5 separate regions of the Homo sapiens genome follow, and regions 2, 3, 4 and 5 are each reported to be linked to region 1. Evidence: microRNA targets listed by miRTarBase, many of them from high-throughput screens and not tested one by one. Region 1 holds a microRNA gene; each other region holds the end of a gene's coding sequence.

Region 1 (6,711 bases):
AAGTCTATAGTTTTGTTAATAGTAATGCACCAGCATTAATGTTTTAGTTCTGATAATTGTACTATGGCTATACCAAATTAAGGGTATTCAGGTTCTCTGCTGTTCTTGAAATTTAGTATAAGTCTAAGATTTCAAAATAAAATGAAAAAGAAAAAAGGTGCCAAAGAATCTGGTGGAAAAGGTTGACAATATCCTTGTAGAGATGGACAATTTCCACAAAGATATAGAAACTATTAAAAAAGAACCACATAGAGATGTCAGAACTAAAAAATACCAATTGCTGGGTCTTACACAGCAGAAATCCTGATGTAATTGGTCTGAGACTGAGTACAGGCAGTTGGAGTAATGTGTGTGTGTAATTTCCTGGGTAATTCTAATTATAGCCAAGGTTGGGAACTAGTGGGCTAGCCTAACCAAGTTAGCATTAAAATATAAAGAAACCATATAGTGTGTTGTGGGTCCCTAAGACTACCCTAATACTTGGAGTTTCTCTAGAAGAACTCATGGGGATCATTTAGTTTGAATCATGGCTAAGATTCCTTCCAGCAACATAGTAATGATATACAGCCAGACTGTAAGAGAAAAAGCCATGGTGGAGTCTTGAGAAACCAATGTGCAGGCTTCCTCATGCTTTCTCCCTCCTGCGAGGGGACACCCAAGAGCATGCTTCTTTCTTCAGCAACAAGCATCTGCTGATTCTGCCCAGGGATGCCCATTAGATAAGTCAAGGTTCTCATTAGAAAAGCCCAAGGTTTTTATGGGGAGCTGGTCACATAAGCACCCTCTGCCTAACATGTAACCAGTTCAGACTCCCAGAAGGAAAGCAGGTGTTCAGTGTAAAACCACATTGTGTATAGGCACAGGGAGTCACTCTTCTCAGTTAGGAAAAGTTGAAATCATCATAAGGAACTGTGTACCAGTCAAATTCTCCGACGCAAGGCAAGGGACAACCCCAATCCCTATGATAACTCCATGGGGTGGATATTATCTTACTTAACAGCTGATGGAATTTGAAGCTTAGAGATTTTTCTTTTACCCCAAGAGATAACTTACCCCAACATCACAGCCAGAAAGTAATTATCCAAACCCACAGTTCAGTTCTGATACATTCTGTTCTGAATCTTTGTTTTTTTTCATTGAAGTTAGAGATAGAAAATAGTTTTCCCTCTCTTTACCATAGAGCATTTTTGAACAAAAGAGACGATGTCTTCACAAGTACCTAGAAAGATAATACGCGAATCCTATTCTTTCCATGGTTATCATCAATGTAGGTAGTTTTAACAAAAAGAAGGGCCTTGGGTATATCAATAAATATGACATTTGAACAATCAGCTTTAGGAGTTTCCTGAATCTTTTTTCTACATAAAAGTAGTATATGAAAGTATAAATTTTCCAAATTATTGTTAGTTTGCTTTTTATTTTAAATGTAAGTATCTGGGAATTTGTTTTTCATACATTTGTTTCCTCTTATTCCTGGACCATGTGAAATTTTTTGTAAGCAGTTACACGATTCAAAGCTGCTGGCAGTTAACCAACTTGTACAAAACATGTGCTTCTACCACCTCTCTGGTAGTTCTATTTCAATAACCATTAAGCTTGGTTTTACTACCAAGACTCCTACATGTAGTTCAGCACCTGGAAACCAAAAGGTGAAAGAAAAGGCCTATTCTATTCTCTACTGGAACAAATCCTCCCTTTGTACCATGCCCTAGAGGGCACCCATGGTCTCTCCCTGGATCCTGGGAGCAGGACTTCGCTGGCTGATCCAGAGATCGACTGTAAAAACTTCAAAGAGGAGCCGTCCTTGTGGTTGGGTTCTTGTGGTAGAATCATCTCTCATAGGACAAGCCATGGCTGCTGCAAAATTGATGCTGATGGAAGCAAAGATGCTGATTTAGGATTTCCACTAAATGATAGCCTTAATTAAGAGTCTAAGTTTCTAGAATAGGAGTCAGCAAACTTACTGAAAGGGCCAGATAGTAAATATATTAGGTTTTGCAGGCCATATGGTGTCTGTCTCCATGACTCAGCTCTGCTGTTGCAAGAAGCCTTAAACAATACGCAAACACATGGGCATGGCTGTGTTTTAATAAAACTTTATTCACAAAAACAGGCAGCCAGTTGGATTCGATTTACAGGCTGCAATTTGCCAGCACCTGTTCATTAGCAGACTTTGCTATCTGTGTGCTTTCCTCTAATTTAAGATATCTAGGGAACTGTTACCTTCTTTATCCGTAGTGTACCTAATTATTCCTTCCTAGAGCATAAGCACAGTCTCTGTATACTAATACAAGAAGTGTCATGAGATTGGTTTACATACTTAATTTTCTTTGTAATGGACATCAGTACTCATCATTCTTAAATACAGAAATGCAGATAGAGCCTGTGTGTGTTAATCAACAGCACAAGAACCACTGTGTCTGTCACACTTCCACATCCTACATGAAGAACAGCTGGCATCTGACTGCTTTTGCAAAATGCATTTCAGGTACAATGTCAAAGAACTATCTCCAGATCCCTATATACTGTACTACATCTGGAAAAAAAAACTAAGTTGTAGAATCACCAGAAATCATATTGGCCCCACCATGCAGAAATTCTTGGAAGACCAAACTTTACAAATACAAGTAAAATCTAAGTAAGGCATTCTGGTTCACAGTAGCTTTTTTCCTAAATGCAGTCTGAATTTCAAAATGTAGCTTAGCTTATTCAGTGATTGATTTGCACAAAATATGAATGCCATAAAACACGATTTGAATTTTAACTGTAGATGTCTTGGGTATTCTCCGTTTGCATTAAAACCATGGCCAGTTGTATCATATAGTAATTACAACCAGTAGATGGCATCTAATAGCTAGAATAATATTTTGGAACTATTTTTAACAACAGACTTGCTGATTTATGAGGGTTCACCCTCTGGTGTTATTTATACTGGATCATTTTAATTTTTAGCCTTCATCATCACAGTTGAATTTTAAAATTTCCATCCAATGAATTTATATAAAGGGTTACAAAAAGAAGAAAAACCTCCTCAATTTCAACTGGATAGTTTTATTGCACTTCCACATAATAAGCAGATTAATGTTCTGAATTTAAAAATTGATATAACTTGAAGACATTAAACACTGAGCACAGGCATTTCAAATATAGTTGGCTCTCTATGATTGAATAAAGCTGAGTTGCTAATTTCTGGACCAGGACCAAAAAATATATAATGAGTGTAACACCATACACCAACCAACTTGAACAAATTCAATGAGTCAATTGAGTTTAAAAGTTTCACAAATAATTAAATTACTGAATAGGATAGACCAGAAGGAGAAAACCAAATTATTTAATTCTGTTCCTTAGAGCTCAATTTGCTTTTTAGCTGACTGTATTTAGCTATCTGCAACTAAAACAAACTAATATCATTAAAAACCCATCTATTTTCTTATGCAACCTCAACAAAATATCAATGGGTTTCACCACTTGCAGATAGTATACTTTTTAAAAGGAGGTAAAATCTGCCAGTCTCAACTCTTTCTTTCCCTGCAATGCTCATCAAAGCTAGCATTTTAGATTATAAATAATCTGAGGCCAAGAATAAAAAGAATGCTTCTTTATGTTGTCTAGGTTGTGATCTACATATTTTGGTGTCTGAGTTAGATGGATTGCATAAATAAAATAGCATTCTTGGAAATATGAAGGACAGAGGTCTGTGGGGGAAAAAGAATCATCTAATCAGAGACTTGTTTCTTACTTTAATCATGAGCCATAAAAACAGCCAAATCCCATGTCATGCTGCAGTAAAGGTTACATCAGCACTTCATACAATATTTATTGTGTAAAGGAAGCCCTGCAGTCCAACTCCAATATGACATTAATCTTCCTGCTCTCTATATCCCTCATTCCATCCTCCCGCCTCACGCCCACCCCTTCCCTCAGTTAAATGTGCTGGTTGGTGCCGCTTATATAGTGGAGATACCTGATGGGAGGGCACTGATATAACAAGAAATCTAGACGACAAAACAAACAGAGAAATAGATCCAATCCTAGGAAAGCTGCATTATACCTTTTAAGAAAGGGGGGGGGGGTCAATCATTTCAGTTTGCCCTAGTTCGAGGGGATTCCTGGATGTGGGACTTCCAGTGCTAGGGCCAACAATGTCTTAGACAAACCAGAAAAAGTTCGTGACCTAATGTTTAACAGGCTTATGGCTTCAGAATGTGAAGGCATCATTCAAAATTATTTATTACACCCTAGTCGTATAAGAAATCACCAAAACCAAGACATGGTACTGGGCTGTGCTACTTAAAGCCTGCTGCTACTGAGACAAAGGTCAGGGTTTAATTTCCAGAAAAGCCAGACAGCTTTTCTATGATCTCAGACTTCTTCATTACACCCAACCATCTAGGCTCATGGGTTTAGGGAGGGTGAGACAGGGCTTTAGAGAGCTAACAATTCAAGGAACTAAATAGCTACATTGGGACCAGCATCTAAAATCAGAGCTTACTGGCAGTATTTTCCTGTGGTATTGCCCATTCTGTAATACTCATTGAAAACTTATTTATACTCAAAAGAATGCATCAGAGCAGCTGAAAAGCCATGCAGGCGTAAGGATTCAATCAACCTAATTACTGTTCTTCTCCATGAAGCTGCTCTGGATAACTTGAGGACCGTCAGGTGGGATTAGAAAGCTTTGCTGCCTGGAAGTCTATGCTCATTTTTTGAAAAGCTCTCTCTCTGACTCCTGGTAAACAAGTGATGAAGAAAGGTACTGCAATGGGATGCAAGTTATATCATCACCTTTACTGCAACAATCTAGGGAATGGCAATATATGATCTAGCAATTGAATAGCCGAAGTTATTAAAAGGTCCCCTTGGTAATTGTACACTGAAAACTCAAAACTAGCATTGTTCCATTTAGTACAAACCATGTCACAGAAAATGACTTTGTTTTAACAGAATCCCTTCTGATAACGTCTGCTCACATTAGGCCAGGTAGAGAAAGAAGAGAGAAGATTTCCCCCTTTTGCCTGTGCTCCACTCTAGTTATTCCATTTCCCCATTCATGTCTTATAAGCCCCCTCACCTTTCATCCACATTCGCCTTCCCCGAGATCAGCACCAGCTCAGAGACTTCACTCACTAGAGTCTTGTTGCTTTTTAGCAACCCTTCTTCTGAGGGGACCGTGGAGCATCTCATTATTCTTCTTCGGAAACTGGATTTGTGGAAAAGCGTGGCCAGCCCTGCCCTGTATGTGTGTGGTGTGCACACTTGTGCACAGAGGCCTCTGCCAGAAGAAGTGGCAGATTGGCTGTGTAGGCAGCAGTTTCATGGAGCCCAGAAATAAGTTCTGCGGCATATGCAAATGTAAGCAATGGGGGCAGCAGAACGGGCCTCTAGGTTCAAAAATGGCAGTTGTCTCCAAGAGGCCAGCCTTTTTCAAAAGCAGACCACTAAAAGTTATTCTTACGAAAAATGCCTCCCTCTGAATGAATCTCAAGTTTCTACTAGTAGGTCACTGGTGACTTCTTAAAAAGCCGTAAGTAGCTTACAAAAATATGTTATCCTGGAAAGGTAATGATTAGCAATGTATTACATGTAGTTATTCCAGAGTTCAAGAGATAGTGAGAACAGATGGATACATTTTGACTCCAGGTCCCTATGAATAGGTGTTTGAAAACAGTCCCAGGGAACCAACGGCTAGGAGTTGGGGGATAAGGGTTACAGGTAGTCTACCTGATAATCTTATCAAAGGCCAATAGCCCCTCCTCTCTTTTGCCTTCTTTTCCTATGAAGGGAAAAGGTGAAAAAGACTCACACCTGGTACAGCCTTACCAGCCATGGTGCCACAGGGATTTCAAACAAAATGTCCCCATCAAAGAGAGAAACAAACCTTTTTCCTTTTCTACTTTCACACAACACTTTCAACACTTCTACAATTCAGTTCAATTATCGGGCAGACACCAACTGGGTGTCCTACAATTTAACACAATTCTGACACAATCTACCTGGAAATAGTATCAGATCCCCCAGGTTAAGGGATCGGTCCCATAGGACTAACTCCACTCAGACACCAGTCACAGGTCCAGGTGTCACCTGTGCTTCTGATAGACCAGCTATAAATGGGGGCCCCCATGACTCCCTCCTCGGGTTGGATAATTTGTTGTAACGGCTCACAGAACTCAGGAAAACAGTTTACTTACTAGATTCCAGATTTTTTATAAAAAGGAACACAACTTAGGAGCAGCCAGATGAAAGAAATGTATAGAGCAAGCTATGGGAGATGGGGCTGTAAGCTTCCACGTCCTCTCTGGGTGCAGTTACCCTCCCAGCACCTCCACGTGTTCATCAACCTAGAAGCTCTCCAAACCTCCTCGTTAGGGATTTTTAATAGATGATTTATTATATAGATATGACTGATTAAATCATTGGCCATTGGTGATTAGGTCACTCTCCAGCCCCTCTCCCCTCCCCAGAGGTTGATGAGTGGGGCTGCAAGTTCTGAGCCTTTAATCCTGTGGTTTGTTTCCCCTGGCAACCAGCCCCCATCCTTAGGGGCTTTCCAAAAGTTATCACATCAACATAAGCTCAGGTGTAGATGAAAGGGGATTGTTATGAATAACAAAAGATGCTCCTTTCACCTTTATCACTCTTATCACTTAGGAAATTAAAAGGGTTTTAGGAGCTCTGGGCAGAAACCTGGGAATGAGGACCAAATACGTA
Region 2 (4,000 bases), not on the chromosome of region 1:
TCTCAGGGACATCCATTTCCAACCTCAGTAAAGTTGTCATTAGTCTAACTATGCATTCCATCCTAACCTATCTGTTCTGAGGGATTCTGACACACCCCTCTCCTCCTTGTGCCCCCACAATGCTTGCCTCATGGTACCCCTGTACCTGGTACCACACACTCATACAAAGGAGAGGTGAAGGAGTTTAGAATTTATGCTCCTCAGTATTAAGCTCAGGGTTGCTTCCTCCTAAGCCAGACATACCCCTGACTCCCCACAGTCCTCTTGGCTACAAGGGCTCCCATTGAGATAAAGATTCTCTCACTCTCAGAGACCACCCCCATTGGTCCAGTGAAGGGAACACATGTCCCATCTCAAGTGCATAGAGCGTGACCAAGTGTGGAAAGCCTAGCCTTTGGGCAGACTCTTTCCAGGGTTATGGCCAGAACATTTTCCAGAGGCTACAAGGGCAAAGGGTACCCCTTTGGGGTCAGAGTGTGTCAGCTAAAGGGGCAAAACACAGAGCCTGGTCTGGGGCAAAGTTGATGTCTACCTGTGCTTTCTTTAGCAGATCAGATATAGGAGCACACCAGCCGGGCATGAGCCTCTCCAGCTCTAAGGTGATGATGACCAAGGCCAGTGTGGAGCCCTTGAACTGCAGCAGCTGGTGGCCCGCCATACAGTGCTGCAGCTGCCTGGTCAGGGATGCGACGTGGAGGGAAGGATTCCTCTGAGGCAGCAGCTCCAACACATGGGGCCAGCTCAGGACCACCAGGGCATGGAACTGGAGACCATGGTTTTTAATGTTAGAACAGAAAACGCCATACTTTTCCTATATCAATGATCAAAAGTGCAAACAATTTAAATTTCCATCAGGGAACATCAAATGTTGCCCAACCCTTTTCATTCCTATCCATGGCTCCGTAAGGGGCTTGAGGCTTAATGCCCATCCTGTGGCCAAGCTGAGCTTCCACTCCGGGACCAAAAAAAAAAAAAAGTCTGCTTTGTGACATCATCGTTATGAGCGGAAAGTACCTAGATGACAATGTTTCCATTCTGAAAAATAGAAACATACTATTCAAGACCAAGGTAGCAGAAAAGTTACTTGTATCTGCTTATCATAAGACGAAACTCTGCAACTTGGCAACGGTGGCCAGTTTTCGTAATGAAACAGTCTTTAGTAATTTAATCTTCATGCTTCATAACAAACCAAAACCCCATGAGATTTCCACATTGCATAATTTTGCCTTACTAACAGAATCATATCCTTAAGGATGACCATCATTCCCCCAACTAAAACAAATACAAACTAATGTATGATATTTTTTTAAGTGCCAGATCAATATGGTCTAAAGCTTCAATAAGGATTGTGTGTAGGTGAATAAAGACAGCTAAGTGAATGTGTGTAAAGTGTAGCAAAAGCAGACAGATATTTATGTACAGTATTCATAGAATGGAAAGTTAAATATTTTTGCAGTGTGTATTTAAAAGAGAAACTCACCATAATAGTGCCGTCTAAAAATCTTTGTAAAGTTAATTTAATGTCCTTTAGAAGTGGGAGTCTGGTGGAACTGTGTTGGATTTAAGATACCTTTTCACTCTTCCGTATGTCATGAGCCTTGTGCGTCACCTCACTGTGGTGCATGTGCAAGGGCGTGTGCACGCCTGTGCTTTGCCATCCCATGTTGTAAACAGCTGTTCCAAAGGCACAAACGAGTTTAGGGTAGACTCTGTAAACACCTCCTTACTCACTATAGTCAAGAAGTCCAGCGGCGTCCCAATATAGAGGTCCCAGTGCAGTCTGTCCAGAATAGCCAGCTCCATCCTCAGCAGCTCATTCGGGGAATAGTCAGAGCCATAGTGCTTTGTGAAGTCTTTTACTTGTGGAATAAACTGTAAAAAGAAAATAAAGAGGCCAAAGCCCTACATCATGTCATAGTAGCTTTTGTTTTCTTACCCATGGGGACTGGGCATTCATGACCTTAGTGGAGTTGTCTTCCTGTGGCCTGCCACAGAAAATGCTTCTGAAAGAAATACTAAACCAGATCTTGGCTATCTGTCAAATCCTCAGGTAGTTATGTAGTGAACATCACATGGTCCCCCTCTGAAACCGGGTCTTGATCCCCCAGCTGCATGCTAGCTCATACCCAAAGGTGCTTTGGAGGCTGGGGCTGTGCCATCTCCCCTGTTCAGCTGCAAGAACTCACCCCAAGCTTTCCAGGAGCCATGGGTTCTGCCTCTCCCTATTCCTGATCCCTACCGTGGGTACTGGGCATAGAGAAAAAAACTATGCTTTTGAGCTTCCTAGTCTGTACCAGACACATTGATAAAACCTCCTATGGGTTTTTTAGCATCGCAACTGCAAACACATTTCCTTCAACCTTGATTGAAGGTGGTTCAGTTCTGGAAAAACTATGGCTTTTCCCACAGAGGGACTAATGAGGCTTGTCTATGAGTAAACATTTGAGTACCAAGTACATTAAAGGCTTGATCCTATGTTTTTAGATAAACAGAAGTATTACTATAACCTCCAGAAAAAGGGTCACTTGATTTTTAGTTGGACAAAAGCAACTTGGGCATTAATTCTATTCTAATAAACAGGAGTTTAAAACATTTTTATTGAAGGTTTGGAACTGGACACACAACTTCTTCCCTGCCTCCTCAGACCCAGAGATCAGCTAAGGGTGACCCCCGTGGCAATGGCAGTGATTTCACCATCCCCAAACTGGGAGAAGTTGGAGGGAGGTAGGAAAGCTTGGAAAGGGTATTAGGAGATGATCTCCTCCTGAACAGATGCCACAGTGAAATTCAGCCATCCAGCCATGCCTGAAATGCTCATGGGCCCCTTGTACTTTACCCCCAGCACATGGCCCTCCTGTCCCTCTCAGGGGTCCCAGAGTTCCCAAGGACCAGCTTCATTGACACAGCCAAGTCCTCAAGTCTCAAGCAGCTTTCTTAGACATAATTGCTTGGGGTGGATGTTAAGTCACATGGTTTGGGAGGCCTTTTTCCTTGCTCAACAGCAGATGCCCCTGTTTAGAGAGAGGTAGCATCTGTCATCAACCAGTGAGGCCAGATGTATCTGTCAAGAGTTCAGGTCTCTAGGTTTGGTGGGCCAGGACAGTTCAGCTGCTCTACTTGTTCATTTGTGGGGTCTCAAAGCCTGACAAGCCGATGGAAGGGATAGCAGAGATGCCGGCAAGTTGGTGACTTTTTCAAAACATCCACCATACCTAAGGGCACAGACCTATCAGGAAACTGGAGTCCTCCAATGTTACACCCCTATACCTCAAGTGCAGCCCAGTGTGGACTTCCAAGGATGCATACCTCCTCTTCTTCATTAACTTTTGCAGCGAGCCTCAAGGAAGTAATTGTGGCGCAATGCAGGTATTTCTCTTTTACCTGCAGTATGGAACAAACACATTTGAGCAGAATATGAATGCCAGAAACAAACTGAAAAGCATCTGTGTTTGTTTTCTTTTATACACTTTTTTGACATGGAGTCTCACTCTGTTGCCCAGGCTGGAGTGCAGTGGCATGATCTTGGCTCACTGCAACCTCCACCTCCTGATTTTGAGCGATTCTCCTGTCACAGCCTCCTGAGTAGCTAGGACTATAGGGGCGGGCCACCACACCTGGCTAATTTTTGTATTTTTAGTAGAGACAGGGTTTCACCATGCTGGCCAGGATGGTCTCCAACTCCTGACCTCAAGTGATCCACACCCCTTGGCCTCCCAAATTGCTGGGATTACAGGCGTGAGCCATTGCGCCCAGCCGTTTGTTTTAATAAGCTTTTTTTTCCCATTTTTAAAAGGCTCAATTTCTCCACAAGACAGAATGTTAGTGCCGTTTTTAGATCTGACCAACGAAGATGCTCCTGATTTCAGAACTGCAGATGACTGGGCAGTATTCCTTCATTTCGGGACTGACTGGAGGTGGGAAATATGGCACCTTCTCAGGGAACCCAGTCTCATCCTAGCCTCAAGCTGCCCTCGACAGGTCGAGACAAGCACATCCTACC
Region 3 (6,711 bases), not on the chromosome of region 1:
CTTGCCACAGTATGCACATATGCAGACGACAGCGGTTCCTGTTGAGGTTGGTAGAGACCATCCAGTGACCATTCTGGCTATAAGTAGTTTCAGAAATGGGTAAATTAAATAGAACTCAGAAAAATCTACCAGACGTCAAATATTTGCATAAAGAATTGCGTTTAGCCAGATGTGGTGGGTCATGCCTGTAAGTCCAACACTTTGGAAGGCTGAGGAGGGAGGATTGCTTATGGTCAGGAGTTAGAGACCAGCCTGGGCAACATAGTGAGATCCCATCTCTACAAAAAATAAAATTGTTTGAAAATTGGCCAGACATGGTGACATGGACCTGTAGTCCCAGCTACTCAGGAGTATGAGGCAGGAAGAACCCTTGAGCCCTGGAGTTTGCAACTACAGTGAGCTATGATCATGACAAATTAGGGTAACAACATCCAGGCCACACCTCTTAAGACTCCCAGAAATATTTTCTAAGCCTATAGTGCCTTTCATACCCCTCGGACGTTCTGTCTTGTCTCTCATAAAATGATACTACAGACATAATAAGATAAATCTGGAGTTTGCAGTCCCAGTACTAAAGATCGTATCAATGATAATTAATAATGACGAAAAGAAATCAGTTGTAGTTAAGATACTTAGTGGAAAAGAGAAAGCTGTTTTGAAACTGCTACAGGGATGAAGAAGAAGCTATAGCTGTTTTTACAGAGGCTGTTAGTATGGCTAGATAACTGTTCTTGTTATGGAAGATACTGATATGAAAGAAAGAAGTCTAGCATTTGAATTATGGTTAGAGAGAAAACGTGGCATTTTCCTGCAAAGTATCCTTAAAATTTCAAGGAAATGTATCAATCCAGTTGATCTTGCCCACTAGGCAGATCCCAAAGGTTCCAATTCCAGGAAAGGATCATAGGACTCTGGCCTGTTGGTGGAGGTGGTGGTGGTGGTGGTGATAGTAGTAGCAGTAGTAGTAGTAGTAGGTGTTGGTGGTGGTGGTGGTGGTGGTGGTGGTGGTAGTAGTATTTTACTTCTGTTTGTGCAATTACTGACAACCACAGTTACCAGAGCCTACAATTCCTTACCTGCAATCTGAAACCCAAAAAGAAATCTGAAAATAAAAATTATCTTTGTAACTACTTTAGCATAAAACCTGACCTATGGCAAAACTCAACCTGAATTGAGATGAGACAAAATCTTGATCCCACTTAACTGTGCTGCTTCATGGCTTCCAGTGTAGAACTATTAATATGTTTGCTTATGAGGTGCAGCCCTAGACCCTACTGGAGGCATTAAATGATATACAGCATATGCATACCACATTTCAGATTATAAAATCTGAAAATACTGAATTCCAAATCACATCTGTCCCCAGGGGATAAGAGGGTAAGAGATTTGTTTGATATGCTGTAGCTTGATAAGAATAGGAAAGTCATAAACATTTGGATGGGAGGTGCTTTGGGTCTGTTAGACATGCCAGCTGCTTAGGGAAATGATTAACCTTGAAAGCTCTACATGACGTGAAGAAATTTACTTTAAAGAGTAACTGTTTTTAAGGCACTGTTGGATTCAGTCAGGCCTAAGTAGCAGAGCTGAGGTTTTTTCACTAACATGTCTCATCCATTCTGCTTTGTTTGTTGTAGGAGGCAAGTGGTCAACAGCAGGTGGCTGTCGAGACGTCTAATGACCATTCTCCATATACCTTTCAACCTAATAAGTAACTGTGAGGTATGAGGGAAAGGTCTTCATAACTGGGGGGCTCAAATCAAGCACAATCTATAGGGCTTTTTTTAAAATCAGAATGGTGATTGGGATAACTCGGATTTTATCATACTGCTTTAATCGTGGCCAAGGCATCTAGTCTTGTTGAAATATTAAAATCAGTGATTTTATGAATTTAAGATTAATCATTTTGTCTAAAGAGAATGCTTTATACTGAAGCCAAATGTATACTCTCCCCACTAAAAAGAAAAAAATAAAAATCTGTAACATCAGAGAACACCAAGAACCAAAATTGTTCTATAATACAAGTATCCTATATCATATTACTTTAATACTCAGAAACTGGAGGACCTATAGCATAAGATGTTGCTCAATCTAGCATTACAAGTTTAGCAACATCTTGATTATGAATTTAGATAAATGTCAATATCCTTAGATTGAAAGATTATATTCCCAACTCTCACTTGAACCACAAATTTCAAAACTTTTCACTTTACCATGCAGACTGTAATAAAATAGCTGTGTAGAACTTAGAATACCCTGGTTTCTGCATTGCCCTGGTGATATAGAATACCTTGGTTTCTGGATTGCCCTGGTGATAACATGTATTTTTGATTTCATAAAGTCACTCTTTAGAGACCCAAATGAATTTGGCTCTAAATTAGAAAAGAAAGTATTTTGCAAGTCCTGGATGTGACAGGCATTGAAAGTAACCATCAGTTCCAGAGTCTGCATTTATCAGTCTACCATCAGTGATGAGCATAACCTTTTTCAAACACATATCTCTTTAAAACAAGAAACAGATTACAAAGCTCTGTAGTGTTTCACACCAAATCTACAAAAGCATTTGTCTTTTATTTTTCTCTTCCAGATGTACAGAAAGGTGTTCTTACATGAAGAAGGGTGTGAAGGCTGAACAATCATGGATTTTTCTGATCAATTGTGCTTTAGGAAATTATTGACAGTTTTGCACAGGTTCTTGAAAACGTTATTTATAATGAAATCAACTAAAACTATTTTTGCTATAAGTTCTATAAGGTGCATAAAACCCTTAAATTCATCTAGTAGCTGTTCCCCCGAACAGGTTTATTTTAGTAAAAAAAAAAAAACAAAAAACAAAAACAAAAGATTTTTATCAAATGTTATGATGCAAAAAAAGAAAAAGAAAAAAAAAAAGAAAAGAAAACTTCAATTTTCTGGGTATGCACAAAGACCATGAAGACTTATCCAAGTGCATGACCGGATTTTTGTGGTTTTGTTCATTTTGTGTTTAATTTGTGTTTTTTTTTTCCAGCTGTATGAAATGGGCTTTCTGAAGTTTAAATAGTCCGACTTCACCCATGGTGTTCTGTGCTTGCAGTGCGAGTGTTGCTGTAATTCAGTGTTGCCGTCAGTGTCTCTTTTCTTAGCTTTCTGTCTTTCTTTCAACGTAGTGTGAAGTGTCTTATCCTTTTCTATGAATTCCAATTTGCCTTAACTCTTTTGATGCTGTAGCTGTTTCAGTAAAAGTTAGTTCAAACTAATGATGTAGAATGCTTTGACCAAATGAGCTGGTCTATTATGCCTTGTAAAACAGCAGCATAGGGCTTTTAAAAGGTAGTCAATAAAAGTTGCTGAAATTTTGGCTTTTTTAAATATGTAGTAGGTGTTTTTAATGATTTTTCACATAATGTGTAAGGTAGTGAAATGCAAGAAGGGAAAAATGTTTTGTGTGAAACACATTTTCTGACTGGGGAACTTTTATTAGGGTAAATTGTTTGTAAGGCTGTACGCCAACAGTTTCCTCTGATAGTTTGACTGATTTAGGATATCTGCTGTATGATGCAATGTAAAGTCTTTTTTGCCTTTTTTCAGGAAAAAAAAAAAGCTAACTTGATGTACTAGATTTAGTGTAGGTAGTGTTGGGGTTGGGGATGGGGGTGGGGGAGGGGAGTCACTGAATGTTTTGTCCTTCCTTTATACTAATGATAGTGCTTTAGAATGAGAATTATGCCTGAAATCTGGCAAACCGAAAAATGTTGCTATTGCAACAAAGTGGCAAAAGCTAAAAGTAAGGATTTATCTTCAAACATAAGCTGAGATAACGAATAGAAGCAAAACGATTGGCTACTAGCTCTCTCTCTCTCTCTCTATTAGGTAAATTTGAAAAATAAAAATGACTTGGCACTTTTAAAGGTAACTTCACCAAAGACCGAAGAGCCAGTAACCAGTAGCTCCAACTTGTCTCAGCATCACATCTTCTGTGCTCTTTATTTTTGCCGGACCAGTTTGCGGTTAGGAGAATGTGCCTTTTTTGTACCTTTGCATTTAGGTTTTATAATTTTAATTGATGTATGGACACACACAAACAAAAAAGCATGAAGGAAGATTTGGATCCAAGCAGTGCCACACTTTACATCATCACTACAAGTGTTCAAGTGTAAAGAAAACCAATTTTGAAACTATGAAATTCCTGATTCATAAATACACAGTTATTTCTACTTTAGTACATATAAGATAATTCACTGTTATTAAAGCTCTTTTATTAAGGCAATTGCATATGTTTTAAAAGCAATGGTAAATTAAGTTGTCTTCCAAAACTGTGTACTTGTCTGGTCAGCTGTGTATGATCAGTTATCTACCTCAGAGTCTATTTTCTTTTGTGCTGGGACAGGTTGCTGGCCCTCCCTGTTTCCACAGACCAAATCCTCCTAGCTCAGGAGCTAGGGCTAAGCAGTTATTTCTTTCAAGTATTTTTTAGTTCTTAAATTTTATGCTTGTATTTGATGATAGATGTCAGTGACATTTCATAGTTTCAAAAGTCCTTGCTGCTCTGAGAAGTGTAGATTCTAGTGAAAATTACATAGTCATAAGAGAAATGTGTTTTTGTTTTTGTTTTTGTTTCATTTTTTTAAAGTTGTGGTATTATTGGTTCTATGCTCCCTGGAATATTACTGCTTTGTGAAAGTCCAGACTGAACGCAGCACCCTCTGTGTACCTAGTACAGTTATAAACCTGGGTCTCTCACTACTTGATATTTTTGCATTAGTTAAGACAGAAATTTGATAGCTCGGTTAGAGGGGAGGGGAAATCTGCTGCTAGAAATGTCTGAACTAAGTGCCATACTCGTCTGGGTAAGATTTGGGAAACATAACCTCTGTACATAAAAAAAAAAAAATCAGTTAAACATCACATAGTAGACAGCCATTAAATTATAAAAAAATTAATTTATGAAGAAAGACCTTTTGTACAGATTGAAAAAAAAAGATTTTCATAGAGATATCTATATGATCAAGAGAGTTAATTTTTTATTTTTGTTTTACTAGTGCCACAGACTTGCCAGTGGTAACTTATTTGTCCGGTTCAAGATAACTCTGTAGTTTTCTTTCCTAGGACTTGTTGTTAAACGCCAAAAGACATTTTTGAACTGTACATTTGATCAGATTGTTAGCTTTTCTGTTTTATTTCTTTTGAGAACCTTTGAATAAAAAACATCTGAAATTTTATTTTTCCTGTCAATTTTTTTTAAGTCGATTAAGTGTATATCAGAATTTCATTTCATTTCTGATCTCTTTCTTCAGCTCAGTAGATTGGTTTGAAAGTGAGTTGAAAGTTATGTCAGATTCAATATATCCTCAAAATACATTTCCTTGAAAACAATTGGAAAAACCTTTCCACCCCACTTTTGCTGGTTATTTAAATCTGTGTAATGACCAGAGACGTCAACCCTCAGCTCAGCACGTCAACCGTCAGCTCAGCACGTCAACGGTCGGCTCAGCAAATATCCAGCCCAAAATACACCACTAGTGGTCTGTTCTTAAAGACCAAAAAACCAGGCCCTTTTTCTTCCTCCTTTCTTGCTGCTACGCCTCAACTATTTCATTGCTTGTCAATGCTCAGCAAGGAAGACAGCCTAACAGCAGCCCTCCCACCTGTGGTAAGGAAGCATGTGGGCGAGAACCTCGGGATAATCTTATCTATGCGTTTATGACCAAGGTCCTCTTTCAGAGCTACCTGTTCAGCTGTTCCCGACTGGAGGCTCCCGTGCAGCATTCACGGAGGAGCGAGAACTCCTCTTTCCCTCACTTGACTGCTTTATAGGAGGCACTTAATATGCAAAATAGGCTCCTTCTGCCCAAAGTGGAGTAAACGTTTTAGTGTGGTGGTTCAGTATTTATTTCCTGGTGTCCAGTGGCTCTGTCATGGTGATAAAAAGAGTGGGCAAGGAAAAGATGCAGTCCGCTCCATTTCTGGCTGCGTCCCCTGCCATGTGGATGGTGTGCGGGGTGAGTTAGATAAGGGAGGGGTCAGAGCACTTAACTTGCCGGAGCCAAGAAATCGCTGGTACTTGATGGCTGTTTCAGAGAAGGAAACAACATTCCTCTGATGCTAACTGGTGCTTCTGAGAGCAAAATGTCAGGGAGGAGAGAAGCATGGCCTCTCGAGACAAACCCAGGCTGCTAAGAATGTAAGCTCTGGTCTCACTTTGCGTTCCAGCCAAACACCTAAGTGCTCCTTTCTATGACCAAAGGTAAGAAAGAAATGCAATTCAGGCTCCTGGGCACCTTCGTTTTTGTTCACCCTATTTTTGTTGTAGCTTCTCGCCGCTGAAGTCCGCGGCCCTCTATCTGGCTGTGTTATGTACTGAAACCGGTAAACATACTCAGGAGCACCAATCCACGGAAAAGGGAGGATCAAGCCAGCGATGGTGGTTCACAGTTACCGCTCCCATATAACTAGAGGGGTTGTGGCATGTTTGGGGATAAACCCCACCTAGCTGAAAGCTCTGAGACTGAAGTGGAATTCTGGGGTTGGAGGAGAGGAAAGAGGGTGTGGCCGTTGCTCTGTGGTCTACGTATTTTCCCCTCTATAGTGGCTGGAATGAGGAAAGCCAGGGAGTGGAGGCGGGAGTCCCGTTTTTCACCCCACTGCCACACCCTTCATGGCCAGTGGCTCTAGGTTTATCCGCTGGAGCTTAAATCCCACAAATACTGATTTAAAATTCACTAGGAGAAAGGC
Region 4 (6,711 bases), not on the chromosome of region 1:
ACATGGTGAAATCCCGCCTCTACTAAAAAGACAAAAAACTTAGCTGGGTGTGGTGGTACATGCCTATAGTCCCAGCCACTTGGGAGGCTGAGGCAGGAGAATTACTTGAACTAGGGAGGTGGAGGTTGCAGCGAGCCGAGATCGTGCCACTGCACTCCAGCCTGGTGATAGAGCAAGACTCCGTCTCAAAAAAAAACAAAACAAAAAAACTTACATTGATAAGCAAACTCTCCAGTTAAAATCAATTTTTCTTTCTTTTTTTGAGACAGTCTCGCCTTGTCACCTAGGCTGGAGTGCAATGGTGCAATCTCGGCTCACTGCTACCTCTGCCTCCTGGGTTCAAGCAATTCTTCTGCCTCAGCCTCCGGAGTAGCTGGGATTACAGGTGCATGCCACCCCACCTGGCTATTTTGTATCTTTAGTAGAGACAGGGTTTCACCATATTGGCTAGGCTGGTCTCAAACTCCTGACCTCATGATCTGCCCGCCTCGGCCTCCCAACGTGCTGGGATTACAGGTGTGAGCCATCGCACTTGACCAAAAAACAATTTTTCAAGTGCATTAAAAATACCAACTTTCTCATCAAAACCTACAAAGTAGCATGTGAAATGACATGGCATTACAAAAGTGAGAAAATTGTAGCTATAAAACAGAAAAAAAGAAGTGCTGTGATGTCATGCAAAGTTGGAAAACACGTAAGACAAACCTGAAGATAAATGGAAAATAAAACAAGCAGAATTTTGCTTTATATTCAGCAAGATTCAGGTTTGCTGCCTAAAAAAAGATCCTATCCACATAAAGAATCAATGTTTTTTCTTTGTCATTTATATTTTACATCTCTGACTTAAAGTTACAAAATAACTCTAGCAGGAATATTTACAGATTATAAAACATCTGTTACTCGGCAAGCACTGTCACGTTTTTTTGCTACATTTATATATTAAAACATCCTCATGACTTATGAAGCCTCCTTAGTACTTACCTGAATGTTATGGGAAGTCAGGGACCCTGAACAGAGGGACCGGCTGGAGCCGTGGGAGAGGAACATAAATTGTTAAGATTTCATCTTAATATGGACATTTATCAGTTCTCAAATAATACTTTTGTAATTTCTTATGCCGGTCTTTAATCTCTTAATCCTGTTATCTTCATAAACTGAGGATGTACATCACCTCAGGACCACTGTGATAATTAACTGTACAGATTGATTGTAAAACGTGTGCTTGAAAAATATGAAATCAGTGCACCTTGAAAAAGAACAGAATAGCGACTTTTATGGAACAAGGGAAGACAACCATAAGGTCTGACTGCCTGCGGGGTCGGGCAAAGAGCCATATTTTTCTTTTTGCAGAGGGCCTATAAATGGACGTGCAAGTAGGAAATATATCACCAAATTCTTTTCCTAGCAAGTAATATTAATACTCTGGGAAAAGAATGCATTCCTGGGGGAGGTCTATAAATGGCTGCTCTGGGAATGTCTGTCTTGTACAGTTCAGATAAGGACTGAGATAAGCCATGGTCTCCTGCAGAACCCTCAGGCTTACTAGGGTTGGGAAAACTCAACCCTGGTAAATTTGTGGTCAGACTGGTTCTCTGCTCTCCAACCGTTTTCAGTTGTTTATCAAGACAATACATGTACTACTGAACATACACCCTTATCAGTGGTTCTGCTTTTGCCCTTTGCCCTGTGATCTTTGTTGGACCCTTATCAGAGGTTCTGCTTTTGCCCTTTGATCTTTGTTGGAGCCTTATTAGTGGTTCTGCGTTTGCCCTTTGCCCTGTTCCCTCAGAAACGTGATCTTTGTTAGACCCTTATCAGTGGTTCTGCTTTTTGCTCTTTGAAGCATGTGATCTTTGTACCTACTCTCTGTTCTTACACCCCCTCCCCTTTTGAAACCCTTAATAAAAACTTGCTGGTCTGAGACTCAGGCGGGCATCATGGTCCTACTGATAGGTGATGTCACCCCTGGCAGCCCAGCTGTAAAATTCCTTTCTCTGTGTTATCTCTATTTCTCAGCCGGCTGACACTTATGGAAAATAGAAAGAACCTACATTGAAATATTGGGGGCGGGTTCCCCCAATACCTGAACTGGCTCAATCAACAAATAAATTTACTTCTGTCAATTATAAAAAGTGAAAGGAATAATAACTTAAATAGGCTTATATAAGGTTCTTCAATTAGAAGAACAAAATAGAATGTTTTAATTCAATAAAACAATACACTAATTGTGGAACTACATCTAAAAATTATTTTGTGTGCCCTACTAAATTTTATAAAAATAGTTTATATCTTTGACCACTTCACATAATGAAAACCTCATAAACTATAAAAGAAAAAAAATTGTAAGAAACAACAAAAAAATGTGGGCTAGGCATGAGTACCAATCAAGTAAAAACAAAATTTGCATAAGATTTTGAACCCATAAGCCATACTATTTTACAGTAATTCAGTAGAAAGAGTATAGATTTGCTTTCCGCATTTTTGAGGTTTATAGTTTTCTAGTAAATTAGTTACCTTACTAAAATGTTTTGTTCCAATATTGCTCTTTTCTTCTGAAAATAGGAACAAATTTATACTCACACAAACATGCTTACTTACTCCATAATTTTCTTACACCTAGGGTTTAACTTAAGAGTAATGTATGTATATATTTAACTTTACTAAGTCAAAACTAACAAGTCTGTATGTGTTTGCAGGCAGAGAAACAACATGTTCAAAAATACATATAACAATTTTTTTAATGCTTATTTAGGACTCAGAATGTGTGGACTTTATTTATACTTCTATATAATTTTTAGCATAACCATAAAAATAGCCCTGTAGTCAATAACAATTGTACATTAAAAAAAACTAAAACTGTAGAATTGGTTTATAATACAAAGGATAAATGCTGGAGATGATGGATACTTAATTTTTCCTGATGTAATTATTACATATTATATGTCTGTATCAAAATGTGCTATATATGGCATAAATATACACATACAATGTATCCACAAAAATTAAAAAGTATAAACTTAGATGAGAAATAAATATTTAACCTATGAGAACATTCTTTAACCTCCTTGCAGTTTAAAGTCACTGGCAAAAGGGATTACTAGAAATGTTTGTCCATTATGTTACCAAATAGTATGTTACCATCTTTTGCCTACACCAGTGAGTAAAGTGAAATAGGTTAAAGTTAATGGCATACTAACTTTATTAAATGTTTTATAAATGTTAAATAAAATTTTAATAAAATATTAAGTTCACACATAACTTAAAATTTTAAGAACGTACATTTTATTACATAAAAGTACAATTAGTAAAATAATTTACTAATTTTAACTAAAATTTAAAATGCTTTTTTCTCACTATAATGCAGAATATTACCCTGAACACCCACCTCATGTGTCACTTATATTAACAAAAAGAGCCTCTCCACTTAGATTTTTATGTGTCTTACATTTTAATGTCCTTACCCTTCCATAAAAAAGATCATAATGCCCAACTAATAAAAAAAAATTCTCCTATCTCTGATGCAACAATTAGTCACAAGTTGAATACAATAGAAATGAAGAAAACAAGAAGAGTTTTGAATTTTGAGAGTTGAATTACATTATTCATGTTGCAAATAATCTGTATTTTTTAAGGAAAAAAGTATACTTTCAATGTAATTATAACTTTTCAAAAAATTTTCTACACCTTTTAAAGTTATACACAATTTATCTAACAACTTTAGTTCTGGATTATTTTTTATACTCAGCATTCTGATTTACTGTAATGTCTGAAGTGTCAGTGCCTTAGATATTTCTGAGCTATCTGATATTTACATAGACTTAATTTTAGAATAAATATTGTTTTATATTTACTGCATCTACAAAAAAAAAAAAAAAAATATATATATATATATATATATATATATATATATAGAGAGAGAGAGAGAGAGAGAGAGAGAGAGAGAGAGAGAGAGAGAGAGAGAGAGAGAGATGGAGTTTCACACTTGTTGCCCAGGCTAGAGTGCAATGGCACGATCTTGACTCACTGCAACCTCTGCCCCTCCAGTTCAAGCGATTCTCCTGCCTCAGCCTCCTGAGTAGCTGGAATTAAAGGCACTCACCACCATGCCTTGCTAATTTTTGTATTTTTAGTAGAGACAGGGTTTCGCTATGTTGACCAGGCTGGTCTCGAACACCTGACCTCAGGTGATCCATCCACCTCGGCCTCCCAATATGCTGGGATTACAGGTGTGAGCCACTGCGCCCAGCCTGCAGAAATATATTTTAGTACTAACTCTCTGGTGTTTTCTAAAGCTATAGATTTTGAAAAAATGTGTTTTTCTAAATGTATTACATTTGCAGAGTTTTTCTCCCATACAGATTCACTGATGTTGAAAAAACTTTGAGCAACTGCTTCAGGGTTTTTCTCTAGTACAAAATGTACATGATAAGCTTTATGATACCAGTAAATGTACTACAACCCTCTTTATGTTTGTAATCTTTGTCTTCAAAACGAATACTCTTCTTCACTTTAAAGGCTTATATTTTCTTAAAGTCTTTAGACAGTAATTGCATTTATAATGCTTTTATTAAGTACCAACATTCTGATATTAAGATGTCAACAGATATTAATGGCTATTTTACACTCTTTATATTTGTACAATTTTTCTTAAGTATAAACGCTTTCCTGTGCAATAAGGTTTGAGCCTTAATTAACAGTATTGCCAAATTCTTCACACTTGTAGTTTTCTCCAGTATGAATTATCTTACATACAATGAAGTGTGAAAACCATTTAAAGTCTTTGACACATTCTTTACATTTCTAGAATTTTTCACCAGTATGATTTCCTTTATATTTAGAAAAATTTGAGGTGTTGTCAAAATCATTATCACACATTCCAGTTCTGTAGTTTCTCTCCAGTATGTATTTTTTTATGTTTAGTAAGGTTTGCAGATTGGTTAAAAGCTTTGTCACATCTCTCACATTTATAGGGTTTCTCTCCAGTATGAATTATCTTATGTTCAGTAAGTTTTGAGGATCGGCTAAAAGCTTTGCCACATTCTTCACATTTGTAGGGTTTCTCCCCAGTATGAATTCTTTTATGTGTAGTAAGGGATGAGGAGTGTTTAAAAGCTTTGCCACATTCTTCACACTTGTAGGGTATCTCTCCAGAATGAATTTTCTTATGTTCAGTAAGTTTTGAGGATTGGATAAAAGCTTTGCCACATTCTTCACATTTGTAGGGTTTCTTTCCAGTATGAAGTTTCTTATGTTCAGTAAGTTTTGAGGATCGGTTAAAAGCTTTGCCACATTCTTCACATTTGTAGGGTTTCTCTCCAGTGTGAATTCTCTTATGTGTAGTAAGGGCTGAGGAGTGTTTAAAAGCTTTGCCACATTCTTTACATTTGTAGGGTTTCTCTTCGGTATGAATTTTCCTATGTTCCGTAAGATTTGAGGATCGGTTAAAAGCTTTGCCGCATTCCTCACATTTGTAGGGTTGCTCTCCAGTATGAATGTTTTTATGTTCAGTAAGTTTTGAGGATCGGTTAAAAGCTTTTCCACATTCTTCACATTTGTAGGGTTTTTCTCCAGTATGAATTCTCTTATGTGTAGTAAGGGTTGAGGATTGGGTAAAAGCCTTGCCACATTCTTCACATATGTAGGGTTGCTCTCCAGTATGAATTTTTTTATGTGTAGTAAGATTTGAGAACTGGTTAAAGGCTTTGCCACATTCTTCACATTTGTAGGGTTTCTCTCCTGTATGAATTATCTTATGTGTAGTAAGGTGTGAGGACTGGTTAAAGGCTTTGCCACATTCTTCACATTTGTATGGTTTCTCTCGAGCATAATCTTTTTTATATTCAGTAAGGTTTGAGAATTGGTTAAAAGTTCTGTCACATTCTTGACATTTGTAGAGTTTCTCACAAGTATAAATTCTTTTATGTTTAGTAAGCTTTGAAGATTGGTTAACAGCTTTTTCACATTCTTCACATTTGCAGAAATTCACCTTGGTATAATTTCTTTCATGTCGAGTTAGGTGTGAAAGCATGCAAAATGATCTGCCACATTCTTTACATTTGAAAGGTTTATTTTCCATATGTTTTATCTTATGTCTATCTGAATGTGAAAATTTATTAAAGACTTTCACATATTTATCACATTGAAACATTTTGCTCTGCATAGTTGGTAAACATTGGTTAAGTCCATTATAACCTCCCTTGTGCAACTTACATTCATCCACACTTTTACAGCCTTTTAACTGAAAATTATCATTTCCACATTTTTCATATCTTCTCAGTGTCACTTTTTCAAAAGAATCTTTTATGTTCTGCTCTGGCCAAAACTCTTGGGCAAAATGAGAACACATTACTGAAAGAAATAAAAATAACACATTACTTTACAGACTCAGATAAATATACTTTCCAAACCTAACTTATAAAATTACACAAACTACATAAGCAAGATGGCACCACAGGCCATAATTAAGTGTATGTGTTGCCCCAGGTGAGCACAATGCAAAGAGCCACATAGAAAAAAAAAAAAAATTCTGTCACATTTACCCAACACAGCTTTTTCTACTCCCCAATATAACATAATGTTTTCAGAAGTAAATTACAGCCAGGTGCAGTGACTCACACCTGTACTCCCAGCACTTTAGGAGGCTGAAGCGGGCGGATCACGAGGTCAGGAGTTCAAGACCAGCCTGGCCAACATAGTGAACCCGCATCTCTA
Region 5 (4,000 bases), not on the chromosome of region 1:
TAGGCAGAGGCAGGAGAATTGCTTGAACCCAGGAGGCGGAGGTTACAGTGAGCTGAGATTGCGCCACTGCACTTCAGCCTGGGAGACAGAGTGAGACTCTATCTCAAGGGGGGGGAAAAAAAGCAGGGGGTCAAAGAGTAAGTAGAATATGTTGCCATTTGTGTGAAAAACAAAAAAATGTGTAATTTTGTTTGTTTGTTTTTGAGACAGTCTTACTCTGTTTCCCAGGCTGTAGTGCAGTGGCACAATCTCAGCTCTCACTGCAACCTCAACTTCTTGGGCTCAAGCAATCCTCCTGACTCAGCCTCCTGAGCAGCTGGGACTAAAGGCATGTGCCACTCGATGCTCAGCTAATTTTTACATTTTTCTTTTTTTTAAAGAAATGAGGTCTCCCTATGTTGCCCAAGGTGAGTCTGGAACTCCGGGGCTCAAGCAGTCCTCCTGCTTCTGCCTCCAAAAGTGCTGGGATTACAAGCATGAGCCATCATGCCTGACCAAAAATTGTATAATTTAAAAAAGGCCTATCCTTAGAAAGATATGAAAAAAAGGTATGAGTATATAATCCCACTGGGACCTTCTGACTTCTGTACCTTATATACATATTACCCGTTCACCCACATACCTGCCGACACACAAATTAAAACATTCTAAATACTGATTCTTGCGCTGTATCCCCAGAAAAGTATCCAGGATATCAAAGGTTGGATGCAGGAATCCGTGTCTAAAGCACTGTGTGTCACTTCATTCCACACCCGGAACTGAATTCTCAGGAAGAGCCAAGATGCAAAGGATATTTGAAAGCATAAACTTAAAATGCATTTTATCAGGAAAATAAGTAGGAAGATCTCTAAGGGATTATGAAGCCACATTTGGGAACCCACTGATTTTGTTTGACCTCTGCTTTTTTTTTTTTTTTTTTTTGGATGAGTATAGAGAGGGAGAGTGAGTTGCCTAAAGCTACACACCCAGTCAGAGTTACAGGCCAGTGCCCCAGGATTTGTTTCTTTTTTATTGTTTTGAGATGGAGTCTTGCTCTATCACCCAGGCTGGGGTAGAGTGGCGCCATCTGAGCTCACTCCACCTCTGCATCCCAAGTTCAAGTGATTCTCCTTCCTCAGCCTCCCGGCCCTGCCTAATTTTTGTATTTTTAGTAGAGACAGGGTTTCATCATGTTGGCCAGGCTGGTCTCAAACTCCTGACCTCGCGTGATCTGCCCACCTCAGCCTTCAAAAGTGTTGGGATTACAGGCATGAGCCACCGTGCCTGGCCACCCCAGGAATATTTGATAACATCAACATCAAATCATTCCTGCCTGCCCTCATGCAGGGACTTCTCACTTAGAAAGTTCTATAGACCCAATGGGCAGGACAGGAAGATAGAGAAGAAAACACCATCTTTAATCAACCCGCCTGCACAGAAACCAGGAGAGCACTCCCCTCCTTGCAAGGTCCCAGTGAAAAGAGAACCTGGTCCCCTTGCAAAAACCATCTTATAAAAACAAAAGGCTTCAAAGCACCAGTGGCTACACCCGTTGAGTAGAAAGGGGCTTGGGGGAGAGTTGGGGTGAGAGAGGTGAGGGCTGGAGGCAGGGCTGGCCCAGTGAAGGGCAGTAGCTTAGCCTGAGGGAGCTGCCCCCCTCTCAAGCTGTACCCACCAGCTGGGAGCTCCATGCCTGTGGGGGCCAGAGGAACTCCTGGGCCTGGCTGCTTGCATTTGGGATGGTGGGGTGGGGTTGCCAGCCTTGCTCAGGATATTTTGGCCTTAGAGAGTAGGGAATGATAGATTGGAGGGTAGTGGGAGAGGAGCGGAATGGTCACCACAGACAGGCTCAGGTGTGCAAACCATCTGCACCATCTGGGTGCCCCCCAGTTCCTCCATGTCTCCTGCCCTCCTTTCTAACCCAGGGCCATGCCTCTTTCACAGATGAAATGCTGAGACCTGATCCTCTCTCTATGGACGCACCAGGCAGTGCGTGGGATGCAGCGTCCTCAGGAGTGTCTGTGGAGGGAGGTGGGGAAAGTGTTCTCACCTCTACTTGCCCCCAAGGAAGGGTGAGGGTGCTGGCAATCCCGACTCCCCGACTACTCACACCCCCATCTGCCCCTTCAGAACTCCTTCTGGGCTTGTTAGAGGAGGCTTCTGGCCATTGGATTGGTTGTAAATGCTGGTGATCTGTAAACACTGGAGTCTGGGCAGCGCTGACCAGCATTGCTCCTCTCTGAAACCACAAGCCTTCCAACTGGTGAGGTGGATGGAGCCGTCAGGGGTGAGTGGAGTTGTGGAGGTGATGGGGATACAGTAGAACCAGCCTCAGGGACCTGGAAGGGGGTGGAGTGACTGAGTTGGGGCCCCACTTTCCTGGAGGAGAGAGCTTGAAAGATTTGCCAAGGGTGGACAGAGGCTGAGTGTAGGAAGGCTTCTCTGTGGGTGGGGCTGAATTTGGGGCTTCATCCATCCAGTTCCCAATAAGAGAACGAATGGGTATATTGCTTTAAGAGAGGCATTGGCAAGTGGTGGTGGTGGTGTGTGAATATGGTGGAGACCACATAGGTCCAAGATGGAGGGGGGCTTGGAAATGGAACTCAGAGAGCAGACACTGGGTTTTACAGTCAGAAACTGCAGAAAGTACACTGTGTTCAAGGCCCACTTCCACCAAAAATCTAGCTGTGTGGCCTCAAGCAAATCACATCTCTGGGCCTCAGTTTTAATGTACTGCAAAATGAGAATTTTAATCCCAGTCTAGCTCAGGGAATTGAGTTAAATGAGAAGTCTAAAAGAGTCCATTTGCTAAGGGATTAATTACTTGAGGTGCGGAAACCGAGGCTCAGAGAGGGCAAGGGCTTTGCTAGACGTCACAGTCAGTGATGGACCTGCGATTAGAACCCAGGAATCCTGCTCCTAGTTCACAGTAGCTTTCCCCAGAGCTGGTGAGTGAGTGTGGTGGGATGGGATGGGTCTGATGTCCTGCTGTTTTTGGACAGGGGGGCAGGATGCTGGGTGAAGAGTGAAAGGGAGAGGCTGGAGAAGAGAGGAAGGCCCCAGCTCACGCCAAGGCTGAGATTAAAAACAAACAAACAAAAAACAAAAAACCCGTGGTGCCCCTCCCCCGCCCCGCCCCACTCCTCCGAAGTCCGGGCTGCGAAGAGCCAAGCTCAAATCCAAGTCCAAGTCCAAGTCCACGTCCAAGTCCGCATCTCCAGATGCAGACGCGGGGTTGGGCACAGGCTGCAGTGAGCGCGCGGGCCACCAGGGGGACACGCCTGCGCCTTGGCCCGAGCTCGCGGCAGCTGCGGTCAGCCCAGGGCGAGGCGCCGGGGTGGGCGCGGGGCAGAGGCTACCCCGACCTGCGGGAAACAAAGGCAGGTTAGGGAGAGTGGATCCCAAAAGTATGGGGGCGGAGAGACCCGGTTGCCCTGCCCACTCCTCCATCCCCTCCTTTTCGCAACCCCGACGCCCAGGCCTCCCCAAGCCAGCAGGGGGCCGTGACCCACGTGTACAGAGGCTGCAGCTGTAAATGCGACGTCTTCTGGGGCGCCTGGTATCCGTAGGAGTCAAAGCCGCCGATGAAGTCAACTGCGGAAGAGGGGCGGCGCATGTTAGGGATCGGCGGCGGGGGCGAGGAGAGGGAGACTGGGTCCTGAAGGGGAAGAATCTGAGGGCAGGACTCCCACCCTAGGAAGCGGAGCCAGAGAAGCCATGAGGAGGGGAGGGGCGAGGGTCAGACCCCGTGCAGGGCCTGGGGCGGGGCTTCGGCTGGACCCTGAGGGATGGGCCTCTGGGGGTCTGGAGGCGGCGAGGCCGGGCCAGCTGAGGGTCAGGCCCCAGTCCTTAAGGCTTGGGCCTGGGAGGCCGGGCAGTCCTATGGGAGAGAAGGCTCTCAGGGGCGGGGCTAGAGCCTCTAAACGGGACAAGACCTCTGATGGGGTGGGGCGAGATTGGGGAAAGGGGGTGCTGGGGCCAGGGACTGGGCACCTGGACGTCTGGACCCCAGCCTGGAACG

Evidence for each region. The annotated mature microRNA hsa-miR-3976 reads UAUAGAGAGCAGGAAGAUUAAUGU and lies in region 1 at 3,860-3,883, opposite strand. An mRNA with a match to its seed (bases 2 to 7 or 8) in the 3' UTR can be bound and repressed. Matches are read on the target gene's strand: a 7mer-m8 pairs with bases 2 to 8, a 7mer-A1 pairs with bases 2 to 7 and ends in A, and an 8mer does both.
Region 2: the mRNA of SEPTIN8 is a reported target of hsa-miR-3976. The part of its 3' UTR that is shown has no 7-base or 8-base seed match.
Region 3: miRTarBase lists RBMS1 as a target of hsa-miR-3976. Seed matches in the 3' UTR shown: 7mer-m8 at 3,840-3,846.
Region 4: the mRNA of ZNF675 is a reported target of hsa-miR-3976. The part of its 3' UTR that is shown has no 7-base or 8-base seed match.
Region 5: miRTarBase lists NKAIN1 as a target of hsa-miR-3976. The part of its 3' UTR that is shown has no 7-base or 8-base seed match.

Annotation. Positions count from the first base shown.
Region 1 is chr18:5,837,874-5,844,584 of GRCh38, reverse strand. It overlaps MIR3976 (microRNA 3976), which reads right to left and starts at 3,890; the gene lies at 3,752-3,890. The region is part of intron 4 of MIR3976HG (MIR3976 host gene); the gene reads right to left.
Region 2 is chr5:132,748,729-132,752,728 of GRCh38, reverse strand. It overlaps SEPTIN8 (septin 8), which reads left to right. Exons shown (of 10, transcript NM_001098811.2): 10 at 548-1,910. The coding sequence ends at 713. CCNI2 (cyclin I family member 2) reads right to left here. Exons shown (of 6, transcript NM_001039780.4): 3 at 3,307-3,381; 4 at 1,732-1,872; 5 at 533-763. Among named protein-coding and RNA genes, the nearest start is that of CCNI2, 3.3 kb to the right of the region's middle. RefSeq lists an enhancer at 879-1,088.
Region 3 is chr2:160,270,638-160,277,348 of GRCh38, reverse strand. RBMS1 (RNA binding motif single stranded interacting protein 1) reads left to right here. Exons shown (of 14, transcript NM_016836.4): 12 at 1-46; 13 at 1,635-1,719; 14 at 2,585-5,198. The coding sequence ends at 1,712. LINC02478 (long intergenic non-protein coding RNA 2478) reads left to right here and starts at 5,454. Exons shown (of 2, transcript NR_103775.1): 1 at 5,454-5,629. RefSeq lists an enhancer at 6,637-6,711.
Region 4 is chr19:23,648,359-23,655,069 of GRCh38, forward strand. It overlaps ZNF675 (zinc finger protein 675), which reads right to left. Exons shown (of 4, transcript NM_138330.3): 4 at 4,443-6,348. The coding sequence ends at 4,868. Among named protein-coding and RNA genes, the nearest start is that of ZNF675, 35 kb to the right of the region's middle.
Region 5 is chr1:31,178,369-31,182,368 of GRCh38, forward strand. It overlaps NKAIN1 (sodium/potassium transporting ATPase interacting 1), which reads right to left. Exons shown (of 7, transcript NM_024522.3): 6 at 3,492-3,573; 7 at 1,377-3,344. The coding sequence ends at 3,335. Among named protein-coding and RNA genes, the nearest start is that of NKAIN1, 60 kb to the right of the region's middle. RefSeq lists a silencer at 3,246-3,495.